Regions from separate parts of the Homo sapiens genome. Here region 1 is linked to region 2. Evidence: fine-mapped expression QTL. A gene starts in region 2. The other region holds a variant in brackets. All regions are shown on one strand. Distances are between the middles of the regions. Region 1 holds the start of LOC105376381 (a long non-coding RNA gene). Region 2 holds the start of NET1 (neuroepithelial cell transforming 1).

Evidence for each region.
Region 1: its variant is fine-mapped to the expression of NET1 in whole blood (TOPMed, PIP 0.91).

The regions. Positions count from the first base shown.
Region 1 is chr10:5,564,352-5,567,262 of GRCh38, reverse strand. LOC105376381 (a long non-coding RNA gene) reads left to right here and starts at 382. Exons shown (of 2, transcript XR_001747274.2): 1 at 382-727; 2 at 1,958-2,911. The variant C/T (reference allele first, on the strand shown) is at 1,548.
Region 2 is chr10:5,410,961-5,413,871 of GRCh38, reverse strand. It overlaps NET1 (neuroepithelial cell transforming 1), which reads right to left and starts at 1,315. Exons shown (of 12, transcript NM_001047160.3): 1 at 1,052-1,315. The coding sequence starts at 1,179. RefSeq lists a silencer at 974-1,403.

The DNA.
Region 1 (2,911 bases), 150 kb before region 2:
GGGATTACAGGCACATGCCATCATACCCAGCTAATTTTTGCATTTTTAGTGGAGACAGGGTTTCACCACGTTGGCCAGGCTGGTCTCGAACTCCTGACCTCAGGTGATCCACCCATCTCGGCCTCCCAAAGTGCTGGGATTATGGTGTGAGCCACAGCACCCAGCCTTTTTCTGAGAAAAAAAGATAGATATGTAATAATCTTGCATGATAGGTTTTTTGTTCTGTAGGGTTCTCTGGCAGCCCCTGTTTTATCCATTGGACCAACTGTCTGTAAAGGCAGGTAACTTACTTACTTCTTTCTCCTGGAGAAGGACTTTTTGCCCTAACCGAAGCACACTAGTCACAGAGTTGTCCTAGTGACAAAGACACAAATTGAAGCTGCACTCAGTACTCATGGCTGATCAAGGGAAGTGAGCTCATCTCACCTTGACTCACAGCGATGACAGGTTCAAGCCCCTGCATGTGGGCCCGTTCCTCAGAGGATGTTTGCAATGGGGGTGGGGGTTGCCATGGTGATGCCCAGTCAACAGAATGGAGAAAAGAGAAATTTGGTTTGAAATGAAATTTGAGTCTTGAGAGAGGGCTGATATGAAGGAGAATCAAACAAGCCACATGGGAGCATCTGAAGGCCTGGAGATAAGGGCCTGTTGCATGGCTGTGAAAATTTGGCCTTTAAAATAACTAGGCATGGGCCAGAAATCACAGCCGGCGGCTGCGACCACCCAAGTGAGTCAAAGGGAGCTGGATGAGAAGGTGGGGGGCACGCCTGGGTTAGGGTCCTTGACAGTTTTGTCCAGATTGGGTTTGAGTGTGGGGTGTCCTCATGGGACTCTGGTGAGTTGGGGGTGGGAAAGGCGGTTGACTCCTTGGGGGCTGGTCACCACTCAACAGCTGTTCTCCAGTGGCACTTTATGAAGCAATGTTAGCAATGGGAGCTCCCCTGCCAAGATGTGGGTGGTCGGTACCCAGTGGCTTTCAAAGCCAGCAACCCAGGGATCTCACAGAAGTCCATCAGCCTGAAGGCAGGCACGTGGGAGATGACTAAAACCAGGTGATGTAGGCAAGAGGTACCCTCAGAACGCCCTCGAGTTGCCCCATTGTTCTTTTCTGTGCTGCCTGTGTGTGCAGCCGCTGAGCTCCTTGTGTTTTCGGGAGGTGGAGTATGCACCCCTGTGGGCTCATCCATCCTCGCCCTCATCATCCTCCCTGGCACCGTGCAGACTCTGAGCTTCTGCCCGCCCCACCCAGGTGTCTCATCCCACCTGCCTCGGGGAGCCTGGCTGAACAGCAGGCACCACCCTGAGCCACCCCTTCCCAGCCAGAGCAGCTCCGGTCGGAGGCTTCCTCCCAACAGGCGGGCTTCTTAAGCCTCCTTAATCTGCACGGAGGAAATTCAGAAATCCAGTCATCCTGAAACCATCTTCCTTCGGGGCAGGACAGAACCCGTGTGTGTGGGTAGATGAGTGTGGATGGTGGGGGTGGGAGGCACATTTGTCATCGTGCTCAGCCCAGAACTTCCCAGATGTTCAGGCCAATCAGGGTGAAC[C/T]CTTGAACTTCCCTGGGCCTCTGATGCCCGGCTAGTGCCTCAAAAAGCCTCATCCGCGGGTGCTTAAAAAAAAAGACTTGAGGCTTCTTTACAGACACAGCTCATTCTAGAAATCTTCCAGCCCCAACATCACCAAAGGCGAAGAGAAGAAGGAAACTCACTATTCTAGCAGTCCCTGGGCCAAGAGCCTGTTAAGCCATTTTACGAGCCGTCCCCTAAAACATGACAATTCTGCCAGGCAGGTGTGGCAGAAGCGGGGCTATGTCTTTCCCAGAACACTGCAGCTTCAGCATGTCCTGCTTGCAGCCGGGGCCCCTGGGAGTGATGCTGGAGGACACCACCTCCAGGCTGCCCCAGAAACCTCCTGCCCAATACTCACACCGTCTCTCTTCATCTGTTGACCACTTTAGGGCAGGAGATCCAGCGGGGGACTATGGAGCTCAGTGGAGCTGCGGCCTGGGAGAAGCCCACCCAAGAGAACCATGTAACTAGAAACCATCACATTCGGCTTCGTGTGAGGGAGAAGCAGGTGTTTCATTGCACGCAGTTACTGAGATCTGGGGTTGTTTGTTATTGCAGCAAGGACCCACCCTAACACACGAGGTGTTATATGCATTTTACAGATTGCCAAGATGGTACAGACAGCAGAAGTGGCAAAACAACACTTAAACTCAAACCTGCCCAACTTCAAAGTCCACGCCCTTCCCTGGGCTTCAGACTGCCGTCTTTGATGCTATCTTTCATTGAGATGTTGTTTGCATTAAATGGGGGATCTTGCGGCACACGGTGGACCTTGCCCAGCACCCACTCTTCCTAGGGCCAGCCTTACTCTGTGGGGTCAGCCTTTGACCGTCTGGGCCATGAAGGTGGCTGATGAGGCCCCTTCGACAGCCAAGTTGGGGCACAATCTCCTCCGGATGTTGTTATTCCTTCACAGTCTCATCGCAGGCGGGGAGGAAGTCAGAGGGCTGATTTAGAGGACAGAGATACAAACAGAGTGAGCAGAGGATGTTTGGCTGCAGTTGCTCCAGAGTTTCAAGGGAGAAAACACAAGCATTGCTGAGCGGCCATTAGGGGCTTGCACGCTCAGCTGGGCACATGTCCACACCGAGGCATCACGTGCGGTCTGAGCTGAGCTCTCATCTCTGGGTTTCAGGACTTTCAGCACAGTCCTGGCCCTTCACGTTTAGTCTGGGTGATCAGGGATGTAAACCAGCAATTGCAAGGTGGTGAAGCACCACCGTGGAAGGGCACCAGCCGGGCCCTGGGGTCACAGAAGTGCCCCAGGAAGTGTGGCCGTTAAGCCTGGTGAGAGGAGAGCGAGCCGGGAGGACGGTGAGAGACAGGCATGACGGGGCGGTGAG
Region 2 (2,911 bases):
TTATAAATCTTAAATAGTAACAAGAGTATTTTTCCATTTCCATATTCCTAGTGTTGGCACTCACATTATTTTCTGAACAAATCGCACATTCTCTTCTCAACCTGTTGCAAAACACTCTAAGTTCGATATTGTAACCATTCTTGGAAACCATCTAAGATCAATACTCTCTTCTCATTACCAAATTTAATTTTCATTCCTCATCTAGCTTAATCCTCATCTTATTTTACTTAATCCTCATTTTATTTGACCTATCAATAACATCTGACATAGCTCGCCACGTCCTCTTCTTGAAATTCTTTCTTCATTTGGCCTCCTGGATACTGTTCTCACTTGGTTCCCTTCCTCCTAATTCACTAGCTATCCCCTGAGCTTCGCTTTGTGAAATTTCACTGAGCCAAACACGAGTCATACACTCTCATTTCAATGTATACTTCCACAAAAAGTAAAAAGAAAAAACACGAAAATGGTTGTGATGAACTCTCTAATAGGCATCTCATAACATATCCCGAAGTCAACTTATCCCTTAGTCTTTTCTTTCTCAGGACATGGAAGCCCATTCTCGTGGTGCTCACCATGACAGTTTCGGTCTGAGCAAAGGCATTTGGGAACGCCAGCCTACAGCCAGTTGGGTGTGCAGAACAAAACCATTGTGGTTTTTCCTAAGTCTCCCCTGAGAAACAGTCAGGAGGCGAGGAGACTCAATAAACCCGCCCCTTTGCCACAGGCAGGGAAAATCGCAGTTTGGGGTCTCAGGACCGACCTCGGTCCAAGGCCAGGCACACTGTCACTCCAGCCTGTGCCACCCTCACTTCCAGCGGCCCCCGTCCCCCCCCCCAACCCCGCGGTCACCTCCCCCACCCCCCACTCACCTCCCAGCGGCCCTCGCCTCCCCCTGGCCCTCACCAACACCCCCACTCGCCGCCCCCCACATCCAACTCCCGGCCAGCCCTCCCCTCCCCCCGGCCCTTGCCTCTCCAACACTCACCTCCCGTTCGGCCCTCCGCTCCCCTACACTCACCTCCCGTTCGGCCCTCCCCTCCCCCACACTCACCTCCCGTCCAGCTCCGACCCGGAGGTGTCGGCCGAAGGCCCCGTCGCTCCCTCCGTGCTGAGCCCAGAGGCCCGGCGGCTTCGCCTCCGCGGTCGAGGCTGCTTCTGAGCCGCCAGCTCGGGCTCCATGGCACGGAGGAGGGGGTGGGGCGGTGGCCGGGTGCCCGGGAGACCGGCAGGGACGGGCACGATGCCCGCCAGCCTCTGCCAGGCAGAAAGCGCCTGTCAGCGGACTGCAGCCGCCACCGCCGTCATCCGGGGATTTGAAAATGGCGGCTGAGCAGCGATCAGCCAATCAGTGAGCGCGCAGCGGTTCCTAGGAGACGTGGAGTCCCGCCCCTCCACCGCTCCCGGGATCTACTTGCCTAGGAAAGAACCTAGGAAAATTTGCCCTTAACTCCTGAGCGCATCCCTGAGTCCCTAAGGCCCGGTACCTCCTTCATTGTTCATTAGGACTTTCACTACAGGCCAAGGCAAATGGACTGGAAGCATTTTAATTCACCAGATCTTTCTTAGCATTTGAGGAGAAGAGAGGTCCAAACTAATGACCTGTAAACAAGGCATGTTTATTGGCCATATTCACACTGAATTATTGTGCACGTGGCCAATATGAGATATATTTCCAATTACCAAAGGTTATGCAAGTGTGTTCCCGGGACTGTCTCTAGGGAACCAGCAAAATCTAATTATGAGCCCTTATGTCTTCCAATAAGCATGACACAGTCTCTCCCTAGCAAAACAGAATGAAGTGACTTCATCCTTTGCTTGTAAAAGTCAGCAAAAGACATAATATAAAATAAAAGACCGCTTCAAGTAAAAAAAAAATTGTTAAACAAATTACACTTTCTTTGATTTTAAATATTGCTTTATATGTGTCAAAGTCTTTAAAAATAGCTTCTCCTGACCGGGCGCTGTGGCTCACGCCTGTAATCCCAGCACTTTGGGAGGCTGAGGCAGGCGGATCACGAGATCAGGAGATCAAGACCATCCTGGCCAACATGGTGAAACCCTGTCGCTACTAAAATACAAAACTTAGCTGGGCAGAGTGGCGCATGCCTGTAATCCCAGCTACTCAGGAGGCTGAGGCAGGAGAATTAGTTGAACCAGAGAGTCGGAGCTTGAATTGAGCCAAGACCGTGCCACTGCACTCCAGCCCAGTGACAGAGCGAGACTCCGTCTCCAAAAAAAAAAAAACAAAAAAACACTTCTCTTTTGCCAGTATATTTCCACTTATGGAAATTTATCCTAAAAAATAAAATTATATAAACATGAAGCTATTAATGACATTGTTTATAATAGAAACATTTAAAACAACCTAAATAAACAATGATTTATAGCTCATCCACTGAGAAGAATATTTTCAGCCAACAAAAATGAAGTGTGAAGTATGTAATAGTATACTGGTAATTTGAAATAAAAACATGAAGTATAGAGGTATATTCAGTATATTCAAAGTTATGAATTACAAGAGATTATACAAAGAAAAAAGATAATGTATTAAAATGTATTAAATGTATTAAAAAGTCAATGTATTAAAATGTCTCTAGGTAGACTTTAGGTATTCAAAATTTTTATTTTTATTTTTTGCATTTAATTTTTTTAAAAATAAGGACATATTGAATTTGCAGTACCTTTATAACATGAGGGAAAAATGTTTTTGTTTTAAAAAGAGTAAGAAATTAGGGAGTAACATTGAGATGTGAAGCCAGCTAGACTTCCTGGGTAGAGTGGGGACTTGGAGAACTTTTCTGTCTGGCAAGAGGATTGTAAAACACACCAATCAGTGCTCTGTAGCTAGCAAGAGGATTGTAAAATGCACCAATCAGTGCTCTGTAAAAAGCACCAATCAGCAGGACCCTAA